Linked DNA regions of Homo sapiens. The protein of the gene in region 1 interacts with the protein of each later gene in a pairwise test. Each region holds a gene or a part of one and is shown in the gene's direction. Other genes may lie near its edges. The genes, in order: MRNIP, PKIA and DUSP23.

Region 1 (11,066 bases):
CCGTAGGGTGGGCCTGGGACGCTCCCGGGGCTGCAGGGGGACCGGCTTCGCGCTCGGCGGCCGCGCGCCTCCGCCGCCCTCTCCGGGAAGCGTGGGTGTGGTGAGCCCCTCCGTCTCCCCGTATTCCACCCCGGGCTCCGGTTCAAAGGCTAACTGTTCGCTGCTACCTAAAAGCACGGCAGCGCAGGCCTGGCAGGGCGGCCCCTCAGCCCCGCTCCGCGTTGTGTCCAAGGACTGGTCAGCGGAGGCCCTGTCGTCTCAATTCCAGTCTCCCCAGGGCCGGAACCAGTGCCTTAGGAAGATGCGGGCACGGCCCTGGTCAGACGACGAGTCGGCTACCAGGAATCCCGCACCCAGGACTCTTTCCGAGGTCGGAGGGGCGCAGATGACCAGCGAGAGGCGCGGCAGGCTAGAGGGATCCCAGTGCGCAGGGGCGGGGCCGCGGCGGCCGGAGCGAAGAGTATAAGCGCATGCGAGACGGCGTAGGGGACTAGAGGGTTCGGAGCGCGTGCGTGGGGCGGGGCCGCGGCGGGACAAATGCAGAGCGCACGCGCTTGGCTGCCTGGCGACTGCACAAGCAGGGATGGCGTCGCTTCAGCGTTCTCGGGTGCTACGCTGCTGCAGCTGCCGCCTCTTCCAGGCGCACCAGGTCTGGCGGGTGCCAGCCCCCTCCTCCTCCTCCGGCGCGGGGACAGCGGACGGGGAGTGGCGGGGCTGTGGGTGTTGTCTCGAATGGCTCCGGGATGCACCGGGCCCGAAGGAGTGCAGGGACCGCTGAGGGCGGGTCTCATTGGGGTCGCCCCCGCATAACGTTCTGAGCTTTTTGTTTGGTTCTTGTACAAACCAGAGGTAATGGTTCTGCGGAGGTGGCCTCTTGTGAATTGTAGCAGGTAGTGGGAGAATCCGGTTGAGTATAGCATCCTTTACGCAGAGCCTACCCCACGAAGTAGCGCTGTCGCAGTTTCAGTGAGAGGGGGAGGACGGTTCTTAGAGACCGAGCGCGCCGCGGCGGCGTCCCTGCTCCACACCTGGGCGCCCTCTCCGTCGCCCCGCGCCTCTGCCGCCGTCCGTTTCCGCGGGGCCAGGGACTTGATATGGCTGTTCGCCGACGCATAAACCACGGGCCCCGGAGTCTTAAAGACAGATAATCTGTGTTTCTAGGACATATTTGCCTCCCTAACTTTCAGCGTGCCAGATAGAGAATGCCACTTAACCTTTTCCGGATCGCACCTGTCTCCCTGCTTGATATCACTTAACACTGCAGTCACCGTATCTGCTTCTGATAGTCCCTCCCTCCTAATTATTGGTAATCTGCTATGCCCTGAGAAAGAATAGCATCAGACTTCTTCTTCTTTTTTTTTTTTTTTTGAGACGGAGTTTCGCTCTTGTTGCCCAGGCTGGAGTGCAATGGCGCGATCTCGGCTCACCGCAACCTCCGCCTCCCAGGTTCAAGCAATTCTCCTGCCTCAGCCTCCCGAGTAGCTGGATTACAGGCATGCGCCACCATGCCCAGCTAATTTTGTGTTTTTAATAGAGACAGGGTTTCTCCATGTTGGTCAGGCCGGTCTCGAACTCCTGACCTCAGGTGACCCGCCTGCCTCGGCCTCCCAAAGTGCTGGGATTACAGGCGAGAGCCATTGTGCCCGGCGTGGATCAGACTTGTTTAAGAGGTATGTTAAAAAGTCAGCAAGATGCTGAGTATGTGTCTGTAAGCTTGCATTTAATGCTAAGCGTTTGTAAGGGCCATTTTAAGGGCTCAGAAACTTTTTACTTATTTTCTTTCGGGAGCTGGGTCCTAAGAGTTGCAAATAAAGGGAGATCATTTGCATTTTTAAATTATTCCACGTCTAATGTTTCATGCTGTTTTTTAAAAACAAATTTTCCGTTTATTTTTATTTCCTTTTTTTGTTTTTGAGACAGAGTCTCACGTCTCACTCTGTCGCCAGGCTGGAGTGCAGTAGCGTGATCTCGGCTCACTGCAACCTCCGCCTCCTGGGTTCAAGCGATTCTCCTGCTTCAGCCTCCCGAATAGCTTGGATTACAGGCGCGCGCCACCAAGCCCAGTTAATTTTTGTATTTTTAGTAGAGACGGGGTTTCACCATGTTGACCAGGAAGGTCTCCATCTCTTGACCTCGTGATCTGCCCGCCTCGGCCTCCGAAAGTGCTGGGATTACAGTGCTGGTGTTACGGGTGTGAGCCACTGCGCCCGGCCTCTATTTCCTTGTTTGTTTTCCTGTTTCACTCTTCCATGTTCACCAGTGTTATTTATTTATTTATTTACTTATTTATTTTGAGACAAGGTCTCGCTTTGTCGCCCAGATTGGAGTGCAGTGGTAACAATCACAGCTCGCTGCAACCTGCATCTCCCGGGCTCAGCTGATCCACCTCAGCCTCCCACGTAGCTGGTACTACAGGTGTGGGCCACCATCCCCAGCTAATTTTTATATTTTTTGTAGGAATGAGGTTTCGGCCGTGTTGCCCAGGCTGGTCTGGAACTCCTGGGCTCAAGTGTTCTTCCCGCCTTAGCTCCCAAAGTGCCGGGACTACGGGTGTGAGCCAGCGCCCCTGACCCTCGTGGTCATTTTCAACCTTATGAAATGTGAGTTGCTTGGCCCCGGTGGCTCACGCCCATAATCTCAGCACTTTGGGAAGCCCACTAGGGCAGATCACTTGAGCTCAGAAGTTCCAGAGCAGCCTGGGCAACGTAGCGAGACCTTGTCTCTACTAAAATTCAAAATAAAATAGCTAGATGTAGTGGCGCGCATCTGTAGTCCTAGCTACTCAGGGTCGCTGAGGCAGGAGAATCGCTTCAGTCCAGGAGGTAGAGGTTGCAGTGAGCCGTGTTCACACCACTGCACTCCAGCCTGGGCGACAGCCAGACCCTGTCTCAAAAACAAAGAAAAATTACTTGAAACCAAAGAGGACGGCAAGTCGGCTATGTACTACTTTAATTTTAATTGCAAGTCGGCTGTGTACTACTTTAACACGTTTAACTTCAACAACCTTTGACTTAGGCATCATTCCCATCTTAGAGACATGAGAATTCCGAAATACACGGGAATCAAGTGGTTTCTCCATCTAGGGAGTGGCAGAACCATACTATCTCAGCAGTTCCCACAATTAATTCCTTTACCAGGTTCTGTGAGTCCTAAACTTTTAAAAAGGCTTTTCTTGGCCGGGTGCGGTGGCTCACACCTGTAATCCCAGCACTTTGGGAGGCCGAGGGGGGCAGATCATGAGGTCAGGAGTTCGAGACCAGCCTGGGCAATGTTGTGAAACCCCGTCTCTACTAAAAATACAAAAAATACAGGTCGTGGTGGCGGGCACCTGTAATCGCAGCTACTTGGGAGGCTGAGGCAGGAGAATCACTTGAATCCAGGAGGCAGAGGTTGCAGTGAGCCGAGATCACGCCACAGTGCTCCAGCCTGGGCAACAGAGCCAGACTCTGTCTCAAAAAAAAAAAAAAAAAAACAACTTTTCTTACTTGTTTATATACTCATAGAAAATCCACAGTTTTATTGGTGTTTTAAGGTAGAAGCTGAGAAGTAAAATTGCTAAGTCATTACCCAGTTCAATTTTTGGTAGGTGCTCATTGTCCTCCTTAGAATCCTTTTGGATACTTCCCCCGAAAACCTCATGATTTTGTATTAGGATCATATTAATCGTATTAATGTTAATGGATCAACCTAGACATCTTTGTGGTGTTAAACATGATCCATTACGTTTCTTCAAGTAACCTTGGTATCCCTTGGTAACATTTTATTTGTTGCTGTTATAAATGGACTCTTTATCAATTATGTGTTCTAATTAGATGTCTGCTCATATAAAAGCTATATTAATTTTTGAAGGTATCTTAATTTTGTACCTAACCACTGTATTAGACTATCTGGTTTTAGTGGCTTCTCATTTCATTATGTTGGTTTTCGGATAAAAAATTATGTCAGGTAGCAGCCGGGCTGGTGGTTCATGCCTTTAATCCCAGCACTTTGGGTGGGTCACTTGAGGTCAGGAGTTCGAGACCAGCCTGACCAACATGATGAAACCCTGTCTCTGCTAAAACCACAAAGTTAGCCGGGCGTGGTGGCACGTGCCTGTAATCCCAGCTACTTGGGAGACTGAGGCAGGAGAATCTCTTGAACCTGGGAGGTGGAGGTTGCACTAAGCCGAGATCTCACCATTGCACTCCAGCCTGGGCAATAAGAGCGAAACTCCGTCTCAAAAAAATTAAAATTAAAATTAAAATTAAAAAATTGGCTTTTCTTTGGGAGGCCGAGGTCTGCAGATCATTTGAGGTCAGGAGTTATTTCAGGTATTATAATTATGTCTATAAATAATGATAGGGTTTTCCGCTCCTTTATAATTTTTATACATCTTACAACTTTCTTCTAATTCCATTGGCTAGTACATCCAGAAAAAAATGGTAAATAATAGCGGGCAACCCTGGCTTGTTCTTGACTTCCATGTGGAATGCTGGTAAAGATTCTCCAGCATTAGAGTGGGTTTTAGGCATTTTATATGTTAAGAGAGAACACATCTAGTCAGGTTTAACAAGAATTGAAAATAAATGTTACGGAATTTTTTTTAGACCCAAGTTTAACAAGAATTTAAATATTATGGAATTTTTTTTACAGCTTCAATTTGAGTCTTACGGAGTGTTTTTGTTTTGTTTGGATTTGGTTTTGCGAGACAGGAATATTATGGAATTTTTTTTTACAGCTTCAATTTGGGTCTTTCAGAGTGGTTTTGTTTTGTTTGGATTTGGTTTTGTGAGACAGCCTCTTGCCATGCTACCCGGGCTGGCCTCAAACTCCTGGGCTCGAGTAGTCTTGGCCTCCCTCGTCGCTGAGACTACAGGCTCAAGCCACTGTGCCCAGCCCAATTTGATTGTGTTTCATACAGATAGCCAGTTTTCCCAGCACCAACCCGGACTTGTTAAATAGTCTGTTCTTTTCTCACTTTTAAAGTACCACCTTTATGATTATGATACGCTAAATGTTTACACATGCTTTGGTTTGTTTCTGGACTCCTTCCATCAGTTTTTAAAATTATTTCAGGCCAGATCCAGCCCTGGTGGCTCACGCCTGTAATCCCAGCACTTTGGGAGGCCGAGGCGGGTGGATCACCAGGTCAGGAGATCGAGACCATCCTGGCCAACACGGTGAAACCCCGTCTCTACTAAAAATACAAAAAATTAGCCAGGCGTGGTGGCGGGCACCTGTAGTCCCAGCTACTCGGGAGGCTGACACAGGAGAATGGCGTGAACCCGGGAGGGGGAGCTTGCAGTGAGCCGAGATTGCGCCGCTGCACTCCAGCCTGGGCAGCAGAGCCAGACTCTGTCTCAAAAAAAAAAAAAAAAAAATTATTTCAGGCCAGGCATGGTGGCTCACACCTGTAATCCCAGCACTGTGGGAGGCCAAGGCAGGTGGATCACTTGAGGTCAGGAGTTTGAGAACAGCCTGGTCAACATGGTGAAACCCCATCTCTACTAAAATACAAAAATTAGCTGGGCGTGGTGGTACACACCTGTAATCCCAGCTACTTGGGATTTAAAAAAAAAAAATTTCAGATCCAATTCCATTTGTTTTTTGTTTGTTTGTTTGTTTTTTTGAGATGGAGTCTCACCCTGTCGTGTAGGCTGGAGTGCAGTGGTGCAATCTTGGCTCACTGCAACCTCCACCTCCCAGGTTTAAGCGATTCTCCTGTCTCAGCCTCCTGAGTAGCTGGGATTACAGGTGCCCGCCACCATGCCTGGCTAATTTTTGTATTTTTAGTAGAGACTGGGTTTCACCATATTGGTCAGGCTGGTCTCGAACTCCTGACCTTGTGATCTGCCCGCCTCGGCCTCCCAAAGGGGGATTACAGGCATGAGCCACCGAGTCCAGCCCAATTCCATTTTGTTTTAAATAATTATCTGAGTTGTATTTCTGAAATTTCATTGCAGGTAAAAAAGAGTGTCAAGTGGACATGCAAAGCTTGTGGAGAGAAGCAGTCCTTTTTGCAGGTGAGTCCTACAAAACAGAAAGCAAGTGGGGCGCAGGCCTGCAGCGAGCCCTTCCAGGGAGTCCCAGCATGCCACAGCTGGGATCATCCTCTCTCAAACAGAGTTCCCCAGACACGGAGCTCCTGCTTCCGAGCTTCCTGTTCCTTCAGGAAGTGAAATGGATGGAGCAGAATCTGGAAAGGTACTGCCATTTGATTCTTCATTCAGCAAGTATTTCTTGAGTACTTTCTGTGTGCCAAGCACAAGGGGAACAGTGGAAAGTAAGCCCATTGTCATTCTTGCCCTCACAGATGCACTTGTGTGGAAGGGGAAGAGAAACTAATGCACACATGCATCTGCATAATTTAAAACTCGGCTGAGCACAAGGAAAGGAAAGCACTGGGGACTGTGAGAAGATGACAGAGGAATCAGGGCAGCCGGGGAAGGGCAGAGGCCGTTGGTGGAGGTGGAGGTGTGGGATAGTGGGCTCAGGAAGTGGAGGCAGGCAGGGGCAGGCTGTAAATGCTCTCATCCAGCTGTTTGCAGCTGGCATTCAGTACGTCTTTTCAGTCCATCCGTATTGCCCCTCCTGAACTCTAGGACCCCAAACTGTCCTGCATCCTTTGCCTTACTGAACTTGCTCTTTTCCTGCTCCAGCCCCAGTGCCACCTCTCCCTTCACCTCTCATCTTTCCTCTCCTTCTACAGCCATGTGCTTTCTTTCTGACCTTAAACCCAAATTTGCTCCCTCTTCAGGCCTTTGTGCTCACTGTGGAGTTCCCCTCCCTCTTCTCAGTATCCTATGGAAGTTACATAGTCATGTGTTTATGCACGGATTGTCCATCTAAGGCTGTAAGTTCCGTGAGAACAGAGGCTTTTTATTTGCTGGTGTATCCGCAGCACCTAGCACAGTGCTCGGTGTTTGTGGAGTGAGTAAGGAACTGGCCCAACCTTGTTGGGCATTTAGGTTGATTTCCCTTTTGACTGTTATGCACAACTCTACCGTGAAGCTTTTCACAAAAACCTCTTTATCCACGTGACCAGCTGTTTACTGTTTACTTAGGACAAAGTCCTAAAAGTTAAATTGCTGTTTTTTGGGGTTTTTTTTTTTTTTGACATGGAGTCTCTCTCTGTCATGCAGGCTGGAGTGCAGTGGCGCAATCTCGGCTCACTGCAACCTTCGCCTCCCGGGTTTAAGCAGTTTTCCTGCCTCAGCCTCCTGAGTATCTGGGACTACAGATGCATGCCACCACACCCAGCTAATTTGTTTTTTGTATGTTTAATAGAGACGGGGTTTCACCATGTTGGCCAGGCTGGTCTTGAACTCCTGACCTCAAATGATCCACCTGCCTCCGTAGACAAAAACATTTCATAATGTTGGTGAGTGCCTTCACCTGATATTTTTTATTTTTTTATTTTTTTTTAGACGGAGTCTCGCTCTGTCACTCAGGCTGGAGTGCAGTGGTGCGATCTCGCTCACTGCAAGCTCCGCCCCCTGGGTTTACGCCATTCTCCTGCCTCAGCCTCCTGAGTAGCTGGGACCACAGGCTCCCACCACCACGCCCGGCTAATATTTTGTATTTTTAGTAGAGATGGGGTTTCACCATGTTAGCCAGGATGGTGTCAATCTCCTGACCTCGTGATCTGCCCACCTTGGCCTCCCAAAGTGCTGGGGTTACAGGCGTGAGCCACCGTGCCTGGCTGATATTTTTTTTAAAAAAGGGAAAAAAAACACTTCAGAATGGGTTCAGCAAAGTTAAAAAATAAATAAATAAATAAATAAAGTGCTGGCAAGGTAATGAGATCTCTTAGGGAATCCAAGGGCAGAACTTCATCCCCGGTCCCTTGAAAAACTAGCCCCAAGAACTGAAAAGCTGCCAACAAGCCAGACATCAGCTTTTCCTGCCCATCACCCAGCTTCTCCCTATATCTTTACTCTATTTTCTCCTCTCCTTCCCTTTCTGTTTCTCCCCAGACTGTTCAGTCAGATTCTCTGCTCCAAGTCCATAGAATCTCATTCCAAGCCAACTGGAAGAGCTGAGTCTCAATTATAAATTCCTAGGAGAAGCAACCTGGTTGGCCCAGGCTGACTCGGATGCCCACCTCTGGTCCAGTCAACTGGGATTGGGTCTCAGAAGAGAGGGGCTGGCTTACCAGGTAGGCAGACACCCCACATGGTGAGCATGGCTTGTTTGAGATGTATATATTTCTACATTCTCCTTGAGGAAGCCTTCTTACTCCCCTCAATGCCTCTGTGCTGTGTGTGGTATGTGGTGTATGGCTGACTAGGCCACAGTAACAAACACACCAAAATTGTGGTGGCTTAATACAATAGACGTTTCTCTTGCTCTCATAACAGTCCTGGGAAGATGATAAGGTCAGCAGGGCGCTGCCCTTGATGTGGTTGCTCAGGGATCCAAGCTCCTGCCATCTTGAGCTGCTTCTATTCCCTGAGGCTCATCTGTAGCTGCTTCTAGCCACTGTGCTTCTAGCCACTGAGAAGGGCAGGTGCTTGGAGGAGCTACCGAGAGGCTTTGAGGGCCAGGCTGGGAAGCAAGTGACAGTGCCATGGAAAGAGGCTGGTTTCGTGGCCACCCCTGACCACACGCACACTGGAAAATGACATCTAGTTTTCGGGAAGAATGCGCTTCAGTATCCATCCAGCAGTCCCTGCCCTATGGAAGAGCACACCGCTACTGGTTATGCCAGCCTGGTCTTTGCCATTTCCCCCTCCAGCTACTCTTCTCCGTTCTCAGGCGAATGTGCTCCAAACAGGACTGCACTCCCTACGTGTCCATTACAATTGCTTCTGTCAGCGTCAGCAGTGGTCTCTGTGTTGCTAAAAACAACGGTTGGTTCTCAGTTCTCACTTGACTTACTAGCTGCCAGGCACTGGGAGTCCACCAGAATTCTGTGCTCACGGGACATCAAGAATGCTCCTGCCAGTGGGGTGTTGAGGAACACTGGACACGTATAGTGTGTGTGTCTGATCACAGATGTGCTCCATTGTCCCAGCACACTTCACTTAAAAAACACAGGTTCAAAGGCCAGACTGTTAAGAATTTCAAGATGGCGACAGCAGAGCGGCTGTCACACCCTGAAGCTGATTCTGCCTGTGCCATAGCAGGACGCATGCTCTCAAATTCCATCTCGTACCATCTGCCTGTGCCATAGCAGGACGCATCCTCTCAAATTCCGTCTTGTACCATCTGCCTGTGCCATAGCAGGACCCAGGATCTCAAATTCAGGCTCTTAACATCTGCCTGTGCCATAGCAGGACTCATGCTCTCAAATTCCATCTCGTACCATCTGCCTGTGCCATAGCAGGACCCGTGGTCTCAAATCCCGTCTCGTACCATCTGCCTGTGCGATAGCGGGACCTGAGCCCTCAAATTCCGTCTCGTACCATCTACCTGTGCCATAGCGGGACCCGTACTCTCAAATTCCATCCCGTACCATCTGCCTGTGCGATAGCGGGACCCGAGCCCTCAAATTCCGTCTCGTACCATCTGCCTGTGCCATAGCGGGACCCGTACTCTCAAATTCCGTCTCGTACCATCTGCCTGTGCCATAGCACGACCCATGGTCTCAAATTCCATCTCTTACCATCTGCCTGTGTCATTGCAGGATCCATGCTCTCAAATTCCGTCTCGTAGCATCTGCCTGTGCCATAGCAGGACCCATGGTCTCAAATTCTGTTTCTTACCATCTGCCTGTGCCATAGCAGGACCCATGGTCACAAATTCCATCTCTTACCATCTGCCTGTGTCATTGCAGGATCCATGCTCTCAAATTCCGTCTCGTAGCATCTGCCTGTGCCATAGCAGGACCCATGGTCACAAATTCCATCTCTTACCATCTGCCTGTGCCATAGCAGGACCCATGGTCACAAATTCCATCTCTTACCATCTGCCTGTGTCATTGCAGGATCCATGCTCTCAAATTCCGTCTCGTACCATCTGCCTGTGCCATAGCAGGACCCATGGTCACAAATTCCATCTCTTACCATCTGCCTGTGTCATTGCAGGATCCATGGTCACAAATTCCATCTCTTACCATCTGCCTGTGCCATAGCAGGACCCATGGTCTCAAATTCCATCTCGTACCATCTGCCTGTGCCATAGCAGGACCCGTACTCTCAAATTCCATCTTGTACCATCTGCCTGTGCCATAGCAGGACCCATGGTCTCAAATTCCGTCTCGTACCATCTGCCTGTGCCATAGCAGGACCCGTACTCTCAAATTCCGTCTTGTACCATCTGCCTGTGCCATAGCAGGACCCATGGTCTCAAATTCCGTCTCGTACCATCTGCCTGTGCCATAGCAGGACCCGTACTCTCAAATTCCATCTTGTACCATCTGCCTGTGCCATAGCAGGACCCATGGTCTCAAATTCCGTCTTGTACCATCTGCCTGTGCCATAGCAGGACCCATGCTCTCAAATTCCGTCTCGTACCGTCTTCCCCTTAGACCCCTCAGCTCCAGCGATGCTGGCCTCTTTGCTGTTCCTCCAAAATTTCAGGCTCAGGGTCTTCACACTCATTCTCATGTATTGCTTCTGCTGGAATGTTCTTCCCCTAGACAGCCATGTGGGTTGCTTCTTCATATCTTCCTGTTTGTGCTCAAACGTTACCTTCTTAGAGATGCATTTCTTGACCATTTTGAACACCTTATGTAAAACGGTATGCTCTTATGTACGACCTCTTTCCTGGCCTTGTCTTTCTCAGGAGCACTTACTAGCATCTGATAGGTTATATGGCTCACTTGTTTCTTTCCTGTCTCTTCTCACTTGAATGTGAGTTCCATGATGACAGGGAGTCTTGTCCATTCCTGTATTGTCTACCCCAAGATGAGGCCTGGCACACAGTTGGTATTCAATAAATATTTGTTGGATGAATTTGTGACTGGTAAGTGGGAAAAAATGTATTTTATTTTGTATTCCTTTGATTATCAGTGAAGGTAAGTATCATTTCATATATTTTTTGGCAGTATGTTATACAATATGGCAATATGTGTTACTTCTCTTGTGACCTTTTTACTCATGTGCACTAACCATTTTGTGTAGGGCTTTGGGTTGAGTTTGGCT
Region 2 (11,066 bases), on another chromosome or scaffold:
CCTCTCAATGGCAAAACACCTGCTTCAAGACTGAACCTTTAGAAAGAGCCTCTATCTGGAGGGGAAACTTCTCTTATCTCCTGGAGTTCAGCTTGGGTTGAGCAGCACTTGACATCGCTTCTTCCTTCAATTGCCATTTTCTCTGTCAATCATTTCATTGATCTTTTTCGGAGATGCTGTGCCCATTCACAGACCAACTCTCGTCAGCTCTTATCCACCACCTGGGTTCCATGACTGATTTTGTCAAGGTCCCAAAAAGGGCATTGCCTCACACAGATTTCTTATTCGGTATTCTCCCTGTATACTGTTACCTGTGTCCTTCCCCCAAATGCATGGAATGAAATATCCTGCTTGTGGCCCTGTACCAACATGTTATCCCATTAACTCCCTTCGCTGTAGTCACTGTGGCTACTTGAAAGCTAGAGAGGACAGATAGAATCTACTGGAGTGTGAGGGATGTTCCCTATGCATAGGCATAGGTAGAAGTAAAAATGTGAATGCCAGTCCATCCAGTTTTTCTTGAAGCAATTTTAGTCCAGTTGGATTTTGAGACAGCTAGCTGTTAAGATTTGGGACAAATCCTTTCCAAAAGGCAGAGGAGTCCGTTTGCCTCTAGGATTCCTCAAGAACCTCAAAAGAGTTTCCAGTGAGGTTTTCCTCGTAGGCAGTCAGAAAGCCAATGGAGCTGCCCAATCTAAGCCTCTGGTTGAGTATCCTCTAGTTTGTCTTGCCATTTGCAGGTTCCTATCCCTCGTCCTAGGATTTTCCCCACAGACCCCTTGCTACTGAGCCCAAGTGCCTATCCTTGTTGCCACCTAGAGATGTACATTTGAATAATATGCTGTGAAATGGTTAAGATGGCTGTTATGGGGATTGCAAACGTGCCACTTCACCAACAGAGAACAGTTGCAATAAGCCAGATTGTGGGGTATCTGTGTGCCAATGTTCTATTTAAAGGAAGATCTGTTATCTTTAAACTTAAAATTACAGAGACTGTCTGACTCAACAGCCATGCAATTTTATTTTAGTAAATTAAATTAGAAGATCAATGAAAAAGAGGGGCAGAGTTGGTAGCTTAAAATTTTACCTCTTTCTTTCCTCTTCAAATATTATTTTTAAGCAAAGACACTAGTATGGAAAATCGTGTTAATCATATTATATATCATTATTGCCTTTCTATTACAAATTTCGTTTTTACAAAATGCACTTTAGAAAGATTTGAATTTGTTTCTTTGTCTCCATCTTCAGTATATGAGGCATAGGGTGAGGGTGTAGGGGGTGGGCAAAGCCCACTACTGAGTGATCCACTCCAGGAACTGCCCCTTGGGGTCTTAATAACCTTATGTTCCTTTTTTGTTGTTGTTATTATGTGTTAAACAGGGTTTTGGTTTGAAATATTAACTTCTTGAGATTCTAGAATTTTTACTCAGTCACATTAACTATGAGGTAACAAAGAACAAGATCAACAACAAACCCTGTATTCTACCACCTTTTTTCTACTATTAAAATACTTAACCATATACATCATTATTCTGAATAATACTAATATAGAATAATAATGAATTTTAATATAGTTATTCTAAATAACCTAAGGTATATGAAATACAGATTAGTACAATTGATCTTAGAAATACAATGCAGTTTCTGTAATGTTGACAGTCACCTTTCTGTTGAAGAGCAAGTGCGTGAGAATATCCTAATGATGGTTAGAAATTCGAAGTGTCTATCATTTAGTTTCTGAAGAAACTAAACTCTTTGGCAAGAAATAGGTTCAGGATTAGGAGACTGGTGCTGCCTAAGGTGGAATAATACTTGCTAGTGATTTTGCAGGTGAGTTGAACCCACTAAGTTATGGACTGGAGTTGGAGAAATCTTGTTGAGAAGAAAGAAAACAAGTTAGAAAATTTAATTTTCATTTTAGTACAACTGAGGAAGATAATCAAACTGAAGGGATTCCTGAATTTGGACTTTGTTGTGTTTAAACAAGTTTGAGGAAAGTTTCTAAATTTAGAAGGCTAAGCAGAAATATATGTATGATTTTATGTCTGAAACTGATTTATGACTTTATATCCTTTCCTTAAAATGTTTCCTAGGGAGAGGAAAAACTAATTGGCTGGTGTTCAGAATTGAAAGAGGAATGAAAAATGGAAGGACGTGCATGATTAGATGCTAAATGATTAGATACTAAATGAACTGCAGGCACTTTTGTGTTTGACAAGATAGAACTGAAGTCAGTCTACTGCTCTCCAATTGTGTAAAAAAAAAAAAAAAAGTTTTGTCTGCTAGACAGTGTTACCAGATATTTAGAGAGTAAAAATTTAGGAGTTAAAGTTGCCCTCTTCTAACAAAATATCTTTTTCTGGTGCTGCATTACTGCCATTAACTACAATTGAAATAGCCTTAAGATTTGAGGCTGAGGCAGGAGGATTGCTTGAGCCCAGGAGTCTGAGGCTGCAGTGAGCCATGATGGCACCACTGTACTTCAACCAGGGCAACAGAATGAAACCCTGTCTCAAATTAAAAAATAAAAACTTTTTTAAAAGTTCAGAAATGTTGAAATGGAAAAGGAAAAAGAATAGCAATAATAAGGCTCAAATAGAAATGTCATTTCTATTCAACCAGTGACTCCACTGAGAATGGGTAGAAAAAAGTGCTATTTTGAAAGTTGCCAATGACCTCTTAATTGCCAGATTTCTATAATATTTCACCCTGTTCATTTTATAAGTCCTCTTCTATGTTATTCTTGGATTCAATATTTGTGTTTAAAAGGTAATATTAAGTACTATGTATCAGGCACTGTGATATCTCTTAATCTAATTTGTCACTAATTCCCTTAAAGTACCCCATGCCCAACCTAAACCAAGTGGATCTTCTTTCCAATTTGTACCCCATGGTGGCATGCCTATGTGTTTTCATTTATTCTGTTAGCCCATCCTCTTACATGTCGAAACCTTGTTCACCTCAGATACTGACTCACTTATGAAGCCTTCCCCATACCCATCTTCCTTCCCCAACCAGATGTGCCCCTCTCTTGTTTAAATTCCCATAGCACATTCTATTTTGGGTTATCCTTTCATGTGAACATGCTTTGTCTGCTCTTCTAAAAAAAACTCTTGAAAGCAGGGTCTGGGAATAAGTTTTTATTACCTGCAACTCTATGGTGTCTAGCTACATATATGTATTATAGGTGTTCAGCAATTTGATTTTAGTGAAGAAATAAGTTATTTTCCAGAGTTATAAATCTATCTACCTACACTCCTCTACCAGCCAAGTTAAGTTCTCAATATATGTGCAAATGCTAATTTGGTTTTTTAAAAATCATTATAGTAATAATAAATATACTGAGAGTACATTCAAATCATTATAATCTACAAAAGGTATTATGAGCTTAAATGTCCTTAAATGGATACTAAAAGCATGGTGAGCATAGCAAAACCAATCTTTAATGAAGACATTGTACCTGCTTTCAGTATTATTGCATTGAAGGCACCTTATGCATATGAGCATTTATCTTGTTTCAAGCCACTCATCTAGGGACTTTCATCTTTGGTATCTCATTTGATGTTTATACTATATGTGAATTTTACACTAAGAAAACTGAGGCTCAGAGATGTCACCTGAATGGCAGAGATTTTTTCCATATTACCACCCGCTCTTTGAAGTGTAACAGAGTGAGGGAAAACATTGTAAAAACATAAAGTCAGAGCCATCAGAATAGTTTCAAGTTGTTTTGTGATTAATCTTTCCAGTGCTTTTTAAACTTTTAGGTTAACATCTCAAACTTTTGATAACTCAGTAAAGTCTGTACATCTTCTCCCCAAGTACATACAGAAGCATACACATATTAATTTTGCATACAAATGCAGGTGTTTGTGGATTCACTAAAGCTCTCTTTACAGAATAGTTAAAGAACATCTATTTGTGCTCCCTTGGACAATATGTGTGTCCTTTATTAGCCCTTACATTTCCAGTACTTGAGATGAGGTTTTCCTTCTGTTTTTCTCCTTACTTTAAGACCTGAAATGAGAGCCCTTCACCAACACTGACATGAAGACAGCTGATGACTAGGAAGCAAGTGCTAGTGAAAATAGTGACTCAAAGAACCTTGATTCACAAAAAAGGCATGGAAAGGGAGCTCCGAACGTTACACATTCCAAATGACTTATTTAAGGTTTTCCAATCAAAGCCATTTTTACAAAAAAGAAACTGTTCTCAGACTTAAGAGTATTGTACTACCACATATGTGGGAAAACATTGCCAGCAGTTGATTGGTGTAGTTTACTTTGGAATATATTCAGTTCTCTTAGGATGGACTTATTAACTGTCTCAATATTAATATTTCTTTATGGTAATGCCATCTTCAGTAATATATTTGCTTTTGCCAAGTTAAGGAAAGAATGATAATTTATGTTCATCCCTCCTAGGTTCTAAAACAAGTGCCATCCTGAAAGAGCTGCATATCATTTTAGATTCATAAAAATGCATTCAGATTCTCAGCTGATACTTAAAGGGACTGGTACTAGCAAGCACGGTTCCTGATGTATTTAAAGAGCGTTCAAAGAGGTGTGACAAGAACAACATTAGTCTGGAAAAAAAAACAGAGATGGAAAGATAGAAAACTCAAAAGGACAACTTAAGCTGTTACCTTCTTTACATTTCCCAAATACCTTTTTTTGTACCAAAATAAGATTATAACTATATAAGTGTCTAAAATAAGTAAAATGTTATGAAAACTTTATAATGTGCTCCATATCAGGTAAGTTTATATTTTATAGATTTTATAATTAAAATTTTTTTTCTGGTAAAATATACGTAACATTTACTATTTTAGCTATTTTTAACTGTATAATTAACAATGTTGGGCAACTATCACCACTATCAGTTTTCAGAACTGTCTCATTATCACAAACAGAAACTCTATACACATTAAACAATAACCGTTCATTTCCTCAGCCCCTGGTAAACACTATTCTACTCTCTGTGCCTATGAATTTGCATATTCTAGGTACCTCATAAGTGGAATCACTTATGGAATGTTCTGGAACCCTTTCATACATATTTGTCCTTTTGTCTCTAGCTTCTTTCACTTAGTATAAATGTTTTCAAAGTTCATCCATATTTCAGCATGTATCAAAATTTCATTCCCTTTTAAGGCTGAATACTATTTCATTGTATGTATATAACACATATGGTAATTTTGAATTGCAAAACACTTTCAGTACATTGTCTATTACATTAAACATGGCTAGCATATAACACCACCATATTATCTTCCATAGATGTCAAGTAATATACACTATGAAGGTGCCATAATTTATTTGGTCAAAACCCATTGAAAAACATTTACTTAATTCCAAATTGTTTTGTGACTTCAAGTTATGTGGTAATAAACAGAGTATATTAATCCATATGTCTTTATATGTCAGTACTTTTACTTTTGATCAAAGAATGCTTGGAGTGGAATTATTGGGTCAGAGATTATGCCCAGATATTTATAGTTTGAGTACTCTAGATACTGTAGTTTATAGACTATAAAAATCCTAACATTCTGTAACAGATAGTATTACTGAATGTTCTGGAACCCTTTCATACTATCTTAAAAATGAATACAGATACTATAAGGAAATCAACTGAACATGATCCGAGCAAAGAAATATTCTCTCTTTTTTCATTTCCAGTTCATGGAGGAAAAATGCTATACACAAGTATTGAGAGAGAAAGTCTCTCAATCATGCATTTTTTTATCATAGATGACAAAGTGCATCATAGATGTCAGTTAAGTCTTGTAATAACAATGTGGAATAGTAGAAACATCTCTAGCTAGTTTTTAGGGTTTTTGTTTGTTTGTTTGCACCAGCAATAGGTTATTTGCATCAAACCTAATCTAAAATTTGGTCTGTTTGTTCAGATTTATGTACCTACATTATGGTAAATCTTTTATTTTTTTTTCTTAGTTTCTCTTTAATGTATTATTTTTAGTTTATTCTGAAATAGAATAATAAAGCCCAGTGATAACAGTGTCTTATTGAAGCTAAACTACAAAATATTTGGCGTATGTGAAGTATAAACAGAATTGGCAAGACTTTTAACCATCCTCCTCAGCAGAAGACAGTCTCTATTGCATCGGCCAGGAGAGGAGAAACAGAAGGCTTGCTGGAGATTGCATTAGTTTTTACTTAAACATTAAAATGCTAAAAGGACAAAGATGAAGCAACATGTCTTATAATATATGTTTGAGTATCTACTTAAAACTAAAGGGTTGCTAGAACATTTATTTAGTTGGACAGACACACTCCACAGTGTAGCTGACCCTAGACATGTCACAACTGCATTTTAAAGTATGCTTTTTCTTCAGTTGATTGGGGTGGGGGGAATTATTAATAAACATTTCTCCTATGGTTTACCTCTATCTTTATGGTTGTTTGATTAAACCCTCTTTGAAAAGCAGACGTAAAACAAATCAGCATTCTTATCTTTGTCTGAATAAGCAACACCATGGCCATACCTTCTTAATGCACTGCTGTGGTTATGAGACCAAAGGGTAGAAGCAGCAGTTTTTTGGTCATTGCAATAGTCACAGCAACACAACCTGCTACATTCCTCACTTATATACTGCAGAATCTGACCAAATAAACACAGAAAAGTCAGTAATACCTTTAATGCAATTCTTGCACAACTCTCCATGATCTTTCATACACAGCTTCTCTGATAATTGAAATGTAGAGGAAAATAACCTGAATGTTAAGACCCCTTTTCCATTTCCAAAATGTAATTTTGCTGGGACTTGCAGAAATAACATTGAATCTGAAATTAGTGGGCATCCAATGGAGTCACTAGAAATAATCTGTCAAAATCACTCAAATACAAATTTAGATTTAAAGACCAGGAAATTCTAAAGAGTAACTATGGTAATATATTAACAATTTAGGAAAGGAACATTATACATATATATTTATATAAATATTTATACATATTTATATTTATACATATATATTTATATATATATAAATATATATAAACATTTATATTTATATATAAATATATAAACATTTATATTTATAAATATATATAAACATTTATATATAAATATATATAAACGTTTATATAAACGTTTATATATATAAATATATATAAACATTTATATTTATATATAAATATAAATAAACATTTATATTTATATATAAATATATGTATAAACATTTATATTTATATATAAACATTTATATTTATATATAAATATATGTATAAACATTTATATTTATATATAAACATTTATATTTATATATATATAAACATTTATATTTATATATAAATATATATGTTTTTATATATATGGGTTTCTACTTATAAGGTATAATCACTGGAGAATAATGGATTTTTAGAAATGATTCATTCTGAAAAGACTATTTTACCACTTTTTTAAACTAGTGCCATCAAAAATAAATTGTGACAAGTCACTGTCATCCAAGTTAGTCTCTCACGTGGCTCTCAAGGAAGTGAGTAGTTCTTGGGGAAATGGCTTTCTTCAAATTTGTGCTTTCCTGCAGTGAGTCAAGCTGAGATAAAATGGGGCTGATGTTCTTAACTATTTGTTACATGCCCATATTTATTAGAATTACCTAATAATCAGTAAAAAAGAGTTTTATGATAACTAAAAATGTACCTATTGAGACTCTCCATTGATAAAAGTTGGCTAAGATACAGCTGGTGATCCTGTAGAAATCTAAATTACATTTTTTTCATCTTCTCCATATTAGAGAATAACTCAGGATTTCAAAGCAAAGCATGAAAAAGTAGCATTTGATATATTTTATCAATGTTAAGATTTCTGGGGAGCTTATCAGCATCATATACTAAGCATTCAATAAACGTAAATTGTTATTTCATAAGTAAAATATCAACAGCATAAAAATTTCTGTAACTCAAATGGCCAGTATGGTACATGGCTTTAATACAGGAGATTACAAAACATTAGTTGAACAACAAAATGAACTAATACCATTTATTTCTGAAAGCTACCCCCCAATACAAAATGATTGGTATTCTACACAAGCTCATTGTGATTGCTTTAGTATATGTGGTAGGAGTAAATTATGGATAGAACTACCCTCTTCCCTGGTTCTTTTAAAACCATACTTTCTTCCCTCTGGGGTATTATAAGTTGGAAATTAGAGGTGAATCATATTTTAGTCTGGAATTTATCTAGTAAGCAGTTCAAGACACTTAACCATGCACCATCTGTTTACCCAGGGCAGGAAAACATGACATTCCCCTTTTCAACTATAGCAGATGGGGACTTTTAGAAAACTCAGAATGCAAGATAGAGATTATAATGATGGAGTATTAGTCAGCACTTCTTTTGTCTGCATCTCTTTTTCAATCTCATTGATTGTAAAGAACACAATCAGAGATAAAGTACAGTTACTGTCAATTGAAAATGTTTTCAACCTGCATATAGGTGTGAGATAGTGGGCCTGTCACATCTTCACGAGATATGTTGGAATGACTATTTCACCACAAAATTCAAACGTGACACTAAAATTATCTGACACTAAACAGTCCATTAAATAAGAGGATGAATGTTGGCATCTTGCTCATCTATTTAGAAAAGAAAAATCACTAACAGTTTTAGGCAATACTTAAATGTTTAAATTTTTTCTAATAAAATGGAAAATGAAATAAAATGGCATTACGGTGTTATGAAAGCAAAGCAATTAGGTTAATCTCAAAATGTCTGACTGTAAAGTTGTAACAATTTTATTCTTAGAGCTCTCAGGCAGCTTTTAATCATTTTCAAGTTCAATCAAAAAGCTCTAACCATTATCATGAATATATTCTGATCACTGGGCTTTCCTCCTCCCTTTTGCTATTTATTTTTAATTTATTTATTTGGGGACATTTTGGCTACCACTTATGTCTAGATCATGTTTTTCAGGAAATGAATGTGGGCTTTGAATCATACCTTTACCATTTACTAGCTGTGTGATTTATACGTTACTCAACCTCTGTGAGTTGTTTCCTGATATTTAAAACAGGAAAATCACCGAGTTGTGGTGAAGATGAAAGAAGATAACATAAAGGAGAACTCAGTGAAGTGTCTGAAATATACATGGTAAAGGTTAATGTTTTCCATTTTTATCATTTTTATTTCCACTGACAATTTACACAGCCAGACCTCATTACTACATCTTTTCCCAAATGTTCATGAATTATTTTTTCTACCCCTCCCCATGTAAGTTAAACTTAGCCTTGAAATGACCCTGAATCTCACTGGAAAATGTCTTAATGCAGACACTGCCAGTGTCAGGAGAGGTTGGGTCCACTGTAATGCGAGGTTGTTAGGCTCTGATCAGCAGTGGCTGTGGGAATTAAACCTAGCTTCTATATTTAACTCTTCAAGTAGTTGATTGGATCACCTGGCAAAAGTCAATTGGCTAGCAATCCTTCACCTTATTTTCTTTGAATTGTACCACATGTCTAATCACTCGTTTCACTGGCTCATTATCAGAAATGATATTACGGGCATTAAATAAGGGTGCTTATTTCAGAAGCAAAGTGCCATATAAAATAGGAATGTCAAAAGTCTTTGAAGATCCTATTTGGCTAACTCAAATAGTTGTTGTTTCCAATATGCAACTATTGGAGAAGTTTCATATTATTAAGTTGTCCAAAAACAAAAATTAAACTAACTCCATTGTAGGTCATACTTTTGTTGGTCTGTGATACATTTCTATTTTATTGAAGCCCGAAGAATTTACAGAGACCGTGCAAGCATTATTATTCAGGGACTTGTTTATTATTAGGTGCTACTGATTAGATGTGATGAATAGCAAAACTGTTAAACAAAATAAAAAAAAAAAATAGAGCCTCACTTACTGTGGAATCTTTACTAGGAGAAACACCAGCCTATAAAAGTTGCATTTTTAATGACATATTTACATTAGTATGATGACAATTTTTGTTGGGCTTGAAAAGCACACAATTTTACATTTTATTTTTCTTATATGGATTTCTGTTATTGATATGGGCCATTTGGGTTTTAAAAAACAAGTACAAAAACTGTGTAGGACCTTATATTTAATATGTAAATCACATTTATTTACAGGGGAGAATTTTGTGGTGAGCAAGAACTGCAGCCAAATTTGTGATAATTTATTGCAGTTGGTAGAGTCTCTTCATGTATTCCTGGGAACAGAATAACTTCACTCTTTCACGTAAAAAGTATAAATCATCAGTGTAAGTTTGTCTTAAATTTCCAAGCCAATATTGTTAATCCCTATTTAAATACTGAACTGATTGGCTGTTTACCAAAGGCTTGAGGGGTAAATTTGGGGCATAGTCTGAATTAAGATGAGATGTTGGAAACAATGAAAATACCTGCTTTAAACATGTATGTACATACAAGTATACACATATATTACACATATTTTATGTATATTATAAACTATAATTATGTATATGTGTATCTATGTATGTATTCATTAATATTTTCTTCCTATTTCAAATATTTGATTCCTTGAAAGTTGGATTTCATTTAAAATAAAGAGACAAGTGCTTGGAAAAGCATGTGAAAAATCTTTGTTTCCAGAGCCAAGTTTAACAAGGAAAACTTATTTTTTCACTGGCAGTTTGTTTTTCAAAGTTATGAGAATATGTTTAAGATTTTAAAGTGATTTATTTAATAAATGAGTATGAATATGAATTTACCTATTTCAGATTGCTTTATATGTCATATTAATTTTTAAGTATATATTTATCTGTTTAAGCTTTTCTGAACTAGATCTTACCAGGTTATAACTACTGTCCAATTATATAAGAACAACAATATAGTTGCCTTTCAGCTTGAAAAATGCACCTGTTTCATTTTGTTATTTTTTTAACCCATAAGTTATTTGGCCTTCCATCAGCTTTTCTGTCTTGAGGAATACATTGTCCTATGCATAATAAATTATTTTGTACATCTATGTTTCATGCCATAATTTTTTAGTGTCTCACAAAGTTCTAACTTGGAAGGTACTCTTTTAAATCAAGTTTTTCAGAATATAGACTTGTTCTTTGTGAATTGT
Region 3 (10,903 bases), on another chromosome or scaffold:
GCTCTGCTCCTCTGACTGACTACACATTGTTCATTGTGACAAGACAAACACTTCTGCAGAGGAATGAGGTAAGGTGAGGCTGAAGGAAAAAGCAAGAGGCCTCATCCTGGAGGGCTTGATATACCAGTCTATAAATCTTGGGGGTTTGTTCTTGAAGACAATAAGGAGTTATTGAAGAACTGGAAAAGTAACATCCATGCTCTGTAAAAGTCTCTGCAGGTTCACAGAGGGGAAATGTGTAGAGGCCGGAATACAGGAGGCCAGTCCAGGGATCCACAGAGATGATGGGTCCTAAGGAGGTTTTGGGGGATGGGATTTGGGTGGGAAGAAGGTCTGCTACAGAGGGGAAAGGAGGGCTTGTGTGAAAAAAGGTTGTCCATGGTGCCTTCTTTCCCCTAAGCTACAGGGAGGCTAGAGACATTTAAATTGGAGGATAATGACTGGGGCACTTTTTGCCTTGCCTGGAAACTAACGTAAAGGTAGGTAGAGTAGGAAGCAATGTTTCAAGCATTCCTCTAGAAAGGAAATCTGGAAACCAAGCCCTTCCTTGGAACAAAAAACAGGAAAGGTACATGTACATTAAGCCTGTTTTTCTTGGACATCTTTCTAACCCGTAGATAAAGCCAATGTGTTGTTCTAATCCAGGATTCTTAGGTGGTTCTAATTGACCTCAAGTTTTCACCCAGGCCAGTTAGGCCCCTTTGAGGCCTCTCCCTCTGCTGATCAGCTCCTCCACCCATATCCCTGCTCAGCTAAAACTTCTCAGCTCCAGAGAAGAGACACCTGGAGATCAACTCACTACCTCTGTGACCAGACCACTTTCTGGATGCTGCCGATGACCAAAGGAAAAACAGAGCTGCAGGACAAACAAGTCTTACACCAGGGCTTCTTAGTCATAGGTGTGCTTATGAGCCACCTGAGGATCTCACAGGTCGGGGGGCCTGAGATTCCGCATCTATCACAGGCTCCCATGTGACATCAACTGTGGATCACACCTTGAGAAGCACTGGTCTAAAGGTGGTGGAGGGAGCAGCCAGGAGTTTAGAAGGTGCCAAAACGAAACCAGATGCTGACAGTTTGTGAGTTCCATTGGTTCATCATATTTGTTGCATCTACACTGGAAAATGAACCTATGCGGCCTATAGTTTTAGAGACCGAAAAACTTAAAACAAAGGGGAAAGAAAAAAAGCAATACACCAGTTTAGAAACTCCAAAGGTTTAGTGCTGTGATGAGCATATTAAAGATAAGAAAATAAAGTAAATAAAGGCAACTATATTGGTTTTCTATTGCTGCATAACAAATTGCCACAAACATAATGGCTAAAGAAACACCATTTATGATGTCAGTTCTGTAGGTCAGAAGTTGGCCACAGGTTAGCTGAACCTAAGCTCAGGGTCTCCTCAGGCTGATATCAAAGTGCCAGCCAGGCTATGGCTCAGCTGAGGCTCGAGGCAGCGTAAACAGAAGAAGTGAGAGAGTCCACCAACATGGTTTTGATCACAGAAGTGCCTCTTCCCTAACTGAATGCTCCCTCTTGATTCCACTCTCACCTGCCTTTGTTGAATGGCTTTTCAAAAACCAAAGCCTAGTCCCCACCTCCCTCCCCATCTCCAGCTCCCATGATGATAGCATCTGATGTGAGGCAGCATTCCCAACACCCCAACTTAAACTTTTAATGTGCTCCTGGGATGATCTAAAAAAAAAGAAAAAAACACCATAATTTTAAATGCCATAAAGGCAATTGACTTGTCAAAAGTACAAGAAATCAACTAGTAAATTGGGAGATTTCAGTTATGGTATGTTCTGCAACAGTATACGAATCACAAATTTTTCAACAAGACAAAAAAAAGAGAAACAAGGAAAAGCTATCAGTGCCATCTTGTGGAAAGACCTATATTAAAATGTCCAAGGTAATCTGACCACACCCCAGACCATTTCAGCGCCTCTACACCCAAAGCTGACACACATCCAACTGACACCAGGGTAGCTTCACTGTTTGTTTGCAGGTAATGGTTCTGGTAGAGGTTCCATTTTAATTGCTTGTTTCTTGTGCCATGACCAATCATTAAATAATTTGTATATCATCTCTAACCATACAAATACCACAGCAACCTATACCTCCAACACCACACACACACAAAACTCATGCCCAGACTACTCTGGTTGGTTCCCCCACAGACAGCATGGTTCTCCAAATATGGAAAATTTGCATTGATCTATCACAACATTCCTGCATACACACACTTAGACCACAACTGCTTACAGTATAATTCTTTCTTTTTGAATTAACCTTTGTTTTAATTTTATTTTATTTCTTGAGTTTATTGTAAGTTATTTTTCTTCTTTCCTTCAAACTGAATATTTTTATCTATATTAGTTACATATTACTGCATAATAAATTACCCAAAATTTGATGGCTTAAAAGAATAAATATTTATTATCTCACAGTTTCTGTAGGTAAGGAATTCAGGAGAGGCTTAGCTGGGTTGTTCTGGCTCAGGGAATCCATGAGGCTATAATCAAGATGTTGGGTAAATCATCTAAAGTCTTCATGGGCTGGAGAATTCACTGCAACAGTAGTGAGCCACTGACTTGATGGTGGGTAGGAGGCTTCAGTTCCTCACCACATGGATCTCTCCACACAGCTGCTTGAGAGTTCTCACAACATGGCAGCTGGCTTCTTCCCAAAGCTTCCCATGGCAGGCCTTCTTTCCAAGACAGAACAAGGCAAAAATTAAGTATTTCATGATGCAGCCTAGGAAGTCACACACCACCAGTTACACAATATCTTACTGGTTGCAAAAATCAGCCCTATCAATGTGGAAAAGCACTACACAGGCATGAAATGGCTCATTGGGTACCATCTTGGAAGCTAGCTGCCATACCATTTCTTCTTAGGTTCAGTTTCCAGATTATCAGATCTTAGGTGTGAAGTGTGTTTAGACATTAAAAAATCAGAACACTGAGGACACTGAGAATTCTGACTGTAGTCCAAGGGCCACAGGAACCTGAACCCAAGCAATCCTTTGCATTGGTGGAACACAGGGACCTACCTGGAGGAAGAAATTCTCTGACTCCAATTGCACCCCTAATTGCCACTAGCATCAAGCCAAACAGGGGACTGGGGCCTCAATATGAACAAGAACTAAGTCAAAACATTCTTATCAGCTGGAAAAAGGGAAGCTGAGATGCCCTAAAAAATGTTCTGTTAAGCCTTATTTTTTACTTTTAAGTTCAGGGGTACATGTGAAGAATGTGCAGGTTTGTTACATACGTAAAAGTGTGCCATGGTGGTTTGCTGCACAGATCATCCCATCACCTAGGTTTTAAGCCCAGCATCCATTAGCTATTCTTCCTGATGTTCTCCCTCCCCAAGTCCCCACCCCAGACAGGCCCCAGCATTTGTTGTTCCCCATCCCCATGTGTCCATGTGTTCTCATCATTCAGCTCCCACTTGTAAGTAAGAATATGCAGTGTTTGGTTTTCTGTTCCTGTGTTAGTTTGCTGAGAATAATGGCTTCCAGTTCCATCCATGTCCCTGCAAGGGAATGATCTCATTGCTTTTTATGGCTGTATCATATTCCATGGTGTATATGTACCACATTTTCTTTATCACTGATGGACATTTAGGTTGATTCCATGTCTTTGCTATTGCGAATGTGCTGCAATAAGCATATGGTGCATGTATCTTTATAAAAGAATGACTTGTATTCCTTTGGGTATATACCCAGTAATGGGATTGCTGGGTCTGCTGAGCTTTTCATTGGACAGTAGACAAAATGGAAAGAAAAATCCCTCTCTTCATAAGACATTTCTGGTAGTTCCAATTCAAGCTTATCTTTCCCCCACTGACTTCTTTTGCACTTGTTTTTACTGCACAATTAGCTTTTTAATATGTATTATCTGATTGTCTTTGATGAGCAATTTAGTACTTTATTATATGTCCTGAGAATAATTACATCAGAGTCTAAATCCCCCGCAAGGATGTTGTAAATTCCTTGAAGTCAGGGAAATTTCTTAAGCTTACTACTCAGCCCACCATCAGTGTCAATAGATTGTTCTCCAGGAACACGGCCCCTCCAAAGCACTCAAATACACAAGCCATCACACACATGCACACTACAAGAGCAGTGCTCTATAAAGAACAAGCTTTATTTGTCCCATTTCACAAAAATAGTAATTAGACATAGCCAAGATCATACTGACACAGCCATTCTTTATTTAAAAGCACAGTCAAGTAAAAAATACACTTCAAAGAGATACTACCCAATACTCAACACAGTCCTCAAACTTGTGCATTTAAAAAGAATTACAAATACACATTGCCACATGGTCCGACAGACTCACATTCACTCCTAGAAATGTACCTTCACGGTCTTGCCAATGCATTCTTCTTATTAATTTCCCATTCATTTGTTTACTTAACATTTTGAGCCCTGTGGCTCAGGCTCCATATTAGATGTGTGGAATTCAAAAACGGAACAACGCATTCTTGCCTCCTCTGCAAACAAGTATCCTCAATCCAATGACATTACTATACTGAGAAGACATATTTATACAAGGTGAGATGGGAGAAAAAAAAAAAGCCTAAATCTTCCTGAGGGTCAGGTAACTCTGTACAGAGGAGAGAATAAAAGAAGGTCAGTATCATGTATGTGGGCAGACAAGAAGGTGGTTAGTTGCAGAAGTCCTGTTAATTGCAGAAGTCTGAGCCAGGAAACCATCAGAGAGGGTTTTTCCTTACAGTTTGAGGCCCCTTGGGCCCAAGACAAAACATCATATGGCACCCTTGACATATGGCACCCTTGACAAAGCTTAAGGCAGGGACCCTGGGCCCTTTCCACTCTGGGTCTGCTGGAAGGGAAGGGCAGAGCTTCCTAAAAAGGGAGCCAACTGGCCTCTCCACATGGAGGCCCTAATGGTTTGATGGATGCACTGCTAGCCCTGCAGAAACCCACAAGAGGGAGAGAATCATTGGTAGGGGACTCAGGGAAGAGGAAGATCTCGGTCTCCCAAAAAAATTTTCTCTTTCTGGAGAATATGGGCTTCGAGCTGGATATCAAGGAGGCAAAGAAGGAGCACATAGGAGGGTAGGGAGTGAAGTGGAAACTTCCCTGGTGAGTAGGGGAAGCAAAGAAAGGAGAACAAGGCAAAGGGACTAAGAAAAGATTAACTTACAAGAACAAATGCTAGAGTCTTGTCTCCAGAGGTAGTGCAACCAGAAATCCTGAAGAGCAGTTGAATTGAGAAGAGAAGTGGGAGGTCAGGGGGTTGGGGGAAGAGGTGACTGGTGGCTGAGAGGCCATGGCTGGGAAAGAGAGAAAGGAATAAACTGGGGAGGGCTGGTAACCTTGATAGGAATTTATGTAGGAAATGAGAGTGCAAACAGGAAGGGCTTAATGAGGGCTGTGATTGTCTGGAAGGAGAAAAAGGGGAGATTTGGCACCTCCTGGAACCTGGGGAAAGTAATTGTCTGGGTAAATGGTAAGTGTATTTCCCACAGGGTCAGAGCAGGCTTTGATCTTTAGGAGAAGACAAATTGCTTTCCATCTTGCTGAAGCCAAAGGCTTAAATGGTCAGACGTGTGTCATAGGTGGGTGCAAAGGGAAGGAAATATAATACATCCTCATGGCCAAGTGCCCTGGGCTTGGATCACTGTGTCCTTGGCCAAGTTAACCAACTTCTTTAAGCTTCCAATGATTCATGTACAAAAAAAGATACAAAAATACCTTTCACATGTGGTTCTTCCAGAAAGCGCTTGGCACAGGGCCTGGTACATAAACAAATTCAATAAGGGTTAACTATTTTCATAATTACAGTTAGTCTGCATCGCTAGAAGCACATTATTCAAATGAGGATATGGACTGGTCAGATGACAGTGGAAACGGTGTTCAGATCTAGGGGCCCCCACCTAGTAAGAACAACACTAATCAACTCTAGCCTGCCCAGGGGACAGTGACCCAGAGAACTAGGAAACCTTGAAAAATGAAGAAATATGAAATACTAATAAAAATTAAGAAAACCCACAAGCGTTTAACCCAGATAATATTTGGGGACATGAGGGGGTTATGTGAAGAGAAAACAATGTTCCATTTAACTTTAGGAAATGGCGATATTATTAAAGATTTTGGAGGCATTAGTCATCATCCTTTGGTCAAGTTTATTAACCTCTCCAGTGCCTCTGTTTTTTCATCCATAAAATGGGATTCACTAGATCACCTATCTTATAAGATTACTGTGGCAATTAAATGAGTCAGTATGTGCTAAGTGCTTAGAAGACTATCTAGCACATAATAAATGCTCAATAAGTCCTGAGGAGCAACTGGATTGACAGGAGAAGTTGGTGCTGGTTATTATTATTACTATAATTATTACCCTGGGTAAGTTTTTAATAGTTCCAGCAATGAAAAAATGAGAATAGCCTCCTTGCAGCAGTAATTCCCTCTTACTGGAACAGTTCAAAAAGTCGCTGATAACGACCAGTCAATCATTAGAGAGGAGACTCCTCGTCCTGGGAGAAAGCCGATTTGTCATCTCTTAAACCCCAGGGCATCCAGCGTGAAGGAGGTAGAACTAGGCCGGCCCGCGAGGAGGCAGGGGCAGGCGCCAGTGACGCAATGACTGCAACATGCCGCCAGGGTGCAGCAGAGCCCGACCCCGGGTTGTTCCATCCGCAGCAAACAATTCCTAACTCGCTCCAGGTCTTCCTTCTTAGCTGAGTGGGTTGAACCCCGTGGAAGTAACCCCCCGCCCATTATGATGATCCAGCCAATCACCGCGTGATCTGCTCGGACGGGGCGGGATCGCGGCGCTTCCCTCGGTCGCTCAGAGACTGGGTTCCGCGTTCCAGCCCCGCCCCAGGTTCTGGGCCAATCCCCGCGGCTGGGCAGAGCGACCCGAGGGCGGCGCCCTGCAGACCACGTGGCCCGGGAGGCGCCGAGGCCAGGTAGGTGGTGAGTTACTTGGCTCGGAGCGGGCGAGGGGACGCGTGGGCGGAGCGGGGCTGGCCAGCCTCGGCCCCCATGACCCGCTGTCCTGTGCCCTTTCCCAGCGATGGGCGTGCAGCCCCCCAACTTCTCCTGGGTGCTTCCGGGCCGGCTGGCGGGACTGGCGCTGCCGCGGCTCCCCGCCCACTACCAGTTCCTGTTGGACCTGGGCGTGCGGCACCTGGTGTCCCTGACGGAGCGCGGGCCCCCTCACAGCGACAGCTGCCCCGGCCTCACCCTGCACCGCCTGCGCATCCCCGACTTCTGCCCGCCGGCCCCCGACCAGATCGACCGCTTCGTGCAGATCGTGGACGAGGCCAACGCACGGGGAGAGGTCAGCGGGCGGGGTCAGCGCAGGGAGGGAGGGGCCTGGAAGGTCAGCGGGGGACACGGGCGGAGCTGGGGAGACCGGGCCTGGGATAACTTAACTGGGCTCGGGGAGGCAGACAGTAGGGCCGGGAGACTGGGAAGCCAGTGCGGGGGAGGGAAGCGCTAAACGGAAGGAACTAAAGAGAGGGCGAAGCAGTGCGAACTGGGCTTGAGGAGAGGCAGTGAAAACCAGCTAATACTGTGAGTTGTGAAGGAGAAGGGTGTGGACAGACACCTGGGAGAGGTGGGGGTTGAAGTCAGGTGGAGGCTGTTTACCATTTTCTAGAGTAAAGCTGTCCAAATATAATGGAACCTAAGTGGCTCCATGTAATGTTAATTTTTCTAGCAACGGCATTCTTAAAAAGCAGGGAAGCAGATAAAATTAACTTTGGTGATCTTAATGAGATATTTTCATTCTTTTTTCTACTACCTCTTCATACCCTGTTGCGTTTTTCACACTACATCTCAGTTTGGACTAGCCACATTTCGAGTACAGTAGCCACAGTAGCCGTGGCTACTGTCTTCTGTATTGAACACCACAGGTGGAGGGCTGTGTAGAGGTGGACAGCTCTTGAACCAGCCAGTGCAGAGGCCTCCTAGCCACCTAGTGCAGGGACAGCCCTCCCTGACTTTGCTGCAGAGCCCTGGACCTGGCACAGAAGAAGGAGCTGTGGGGAGAACCAAGTGAGGGGCAGGAAACAGTTGTGGGTGGGGGAGTTGAGTGGCACCCATCGAGCCCCCTCTTCGTAGGCTGTGGGAGTGCACTGTGCTCTGGGCTTTGGCCGCACTGGCACCATGCTGGCCTGTTACCTGGTGAAGGAGCGGGGCTTGGCTGCAGGAGATGCCATTGCTGAAATCCGACGACTACGACCCGGCTCCATCGAGACCTATGAGCAGGAGAAAGCAGTCTTCCAGTTCTACCAGCGAACGAAATAAGGGGCCTTAGTACCCTTCTACCAGGCCCTCACTCCCCTTCCCCATGTTGTCGATGGGGCCAGAGATGAAGGGAAGTGGACTAAAGTATTAAACCCTCTAGCTCCCATTGGCTGAAGACACTGAAGTAGCCCACCCCTGCAGGCAGGTCCTGATTGAAGGGGAGGCTTGTACTGCTTTGTTGAATAAATGAGTTTTACGAACCAGGGCACGTTGCATGGTACTTTATAAAGCATTCCCACACATTAACTTACTTCAGCCTCACTGTAGCCCTGTGATACAGGAAAGACAGATGGGCCATCTCTGTTCTTTGGATGAGGTGGGCAAAGCTCAGAGAGGCCCATCTTCAACACTTCTAGAAAGTGGAAGGATGGGCCAGAACAGCAACACACGTCTTCAATCCCTTGAAGATGCTGAAATGCTATGTATCTGTTCCCTGACAATATTTGATGTGTTTTCTGGGGGAGCTAGTCAATGAAAAGGATTCAGGTCCAGAATAGCCTGGCCTCCTGGCATTCCCAGGTCTCTGATGCTCACAGGCCAGGAGGCCCCTCCGTGTAGGCCCACCTGCTGCACACGTGTCACCCTTGTTTATCTGGGGGTAGAGACAGCCTGGATGTCACACTCACAGATAACCACCATCTCCACCTCCACAGGGCTGGTCACCTCTTACCAACCTCAGGTGCTGCTCAGCTCATCTGGGCTCTCTGGCTCATTCTGCTGCCCCACAACCTCAGGCCAAAGGACCTGAGAACAGAGCCAATCTAGGCAGTTATGCAGAGCAGATATTTAACAATTAAATGAAGAGTTCCAGGGCTCTAAATCTTGGCCATGTTTCTCAGATGTTATCTCCAGTTATCCCCTATTGGACCCCATTCTGCCCCCTTGTTGGGCCCTGTTTTGCCAGCACCACTACACTTTTGACTTATGAGAAATGGGAAGAATGGCATATATCCGCCCAATGGACTCTTTACTGTAGGTCTGCCTGTGGTCTTTTCTGCAATAGCAGGCTGAATAAGATAGAAATTCACCATAAAATATGTGAGTTCCTGTACGTACCTGTATGAGTTCTGTTAGATCTGGAGGCCGCACAGTGGAATGAGACATAATTCCTGCTCTCAGGAGCTCAGCCTGCTGGAGAAGATGGGCACAGATAGAGTCCACCACAGACAATGGATGCTATTGTAGACATGCATTCCAGTTCCAGTGGAGACATAGAAGAGTGGGGAGTCAAGGGTTCCCCTGTAGATCTCATCTTTTGTATCATAGACCAGAGACAGGCCTAGCCAACTGGTCCTCCTTTCTGCTGCTTTCCCCCTTCCACCACTAACCACCCAGTTCATCCCTGTCCAACTCAACCTTAAACAAGAGATATCAGCTGAAGTCTTGCCAATCTAAGGCCATAAGATGCCCTCTCCCCAGTTTAACTTTATTTGTCAAATCTGAGTGATCAGTTCCTTCAAGCTTAGTCTCCACCTAGCCTACTCAAGTGAGGATGTCTCCCAAAGAGAAGAAACCCACACATTCCAGGCATTCCAGCTGCAACAGAGGAATGAGAATGCAAATAGAGGATGCACTGAAACCCTTACCCTCCTGTCACCAAAAGTTCTGTCTACCCTGCTCTCCCCCATCCACCCCTCCCCCAATAGTATGGCCCCATTCTGTTTCTGATGCAAACCAGAACATCTTCCAAAGGGGTGTGTGTGTATTTTCATGTGAAGGGAGTAGGGCATGAAGGGTGTGAATGGGCCACTTCCTGAACCTCTCCCCTCCAGTCGGAGGGCTTACCAGGATGGAGAGAGAGAGAGAGAGGTGTGAGGCATGAAGCTTCCCCAAGTTCGTGTCTCCACTCTGATCCTCACCTGCTAGGCCATACAACCAATCCTTGCCCTTTCTGCCTCTGTTCCTGTGTCACTCCATCCTCCCCACATCTCTGCACTGTGGAAGAGGAATATGCCCTTCCCTTCCTCCCAAGGCTCCTGCAAGGGAAACAAAATTTTGCTAACCCCATTAAAGCCCTGTGTACTGCCTCCATCCCCATAATTTAAGCAAGTCTCCTCTGCCTCAAGAGTTCCTTAGGGAAATACACGTATAATTAAGTGCTTAAGGAAACTGCTTTTTAAATAATAAGAGTTGGCTTGAAATGAAAAACTCTGCCCTTATCCTTCCATCTACCTGGTGGGTTAGCCTGTGGCTTCCTTTGGGCTCGTTTCCACTCCCAGTTGTTTTTGTCTTCTCACCAAGCCCTCTTATGTCTATGGCTACCAATAAGGGGTAACAGACGAGCCATGTCCCTTCCCTTTCTACGCTGAGATAGATGATCTGTGCCACCATCTAAAAAGAACATTCGCCTCAAACCAGGATATCTCAACGATTGGCGTTTGAAAGTGGGTGATTCTTTGTTGTTGGGGCTGTCTGTGCATTGTTGGATCTTTAGCAGTTTGCCCGGCCTCTATTCACTAGATGCCAGTAGGATACCCCTCCTCCCCCCAGTTGTGACAACAAAAATGTCTCTAGACATTGCCAAATGTTCCCTGGGGGAGCAAAATCAGCCTCAGCTGAGAACTGCATGAGACCAACAAGCACTGGATGCAGTCATTGGCTTTCATTTCCT

The links.
Region 2: the proteins of MRNIP (region 1) and PKIA interact in binary tests that used the Homo sapiens proteins (3 or more experiments, as listed by UniProt).
Region 3: the proteins of MRNIP (region 1) and DUSP23 interact in binary tests that used the Homo sapiens proteins (3 or more experiments, as listed by UniProt).

The regions. Positions count from the first base shown.
Region 1 is NC_000005.10:179,848,314-179,859,379, reverse strand, and holds the start of MRNIP (MRN complex-interacting protein), read left to right. Parts: upstream 1-562; 5' UTR 563-583; coding exon 584-649; intron 650-5,942; coding exon 5,943-6,002; intron 6,003-11,066. UniProt on the Homo sapiens protein: Plays a role in the cellular response to DNA damage and the maintenance of genome stability through its association with the MRN damage-sensing complex.
Region 2 is NC_000008.11:78,516,924-78,527,989, forward strand, and holds part of PKIA (cAMP-dependent protein kinase inhibitor alpha), read left to right. Parts: intron 1-11,066. UniProt on the Homo sapiens protein: Extremely potent competitive inhibitor of cAMP-dependent protein kinase activity, this protein interacts with the catalytic subunit of the enzyme after the cAMP-induced dissociation of its regulatory chains.
Region 3 is NC_000001.11:159,774,047-159,784,949, forward strand, and holds DUSP23 (dual specificity protein phosphatase 23), read left to right. Parts: upstream 1-6,915; 5' UTR 6,916-7,054; coding exon 7,055-7,321; intron 7,322-8,106; coding exon 8,107-8,292; 3' UTR 8,293-8,497; downstream 8,498-10,903. UniProt on the Homo sapiens protein: Protein phosphatase that mediates dephosphorylation of proteins phosphorylated on Tyr and Ser/Thr residues. In vitro, it can dephosphorylate p44-ERK1 (MAPK3) but not p54 SAPK-beta (MAPK10) in vitro. Able to enhance activation of JNK and p38 (MAPK14).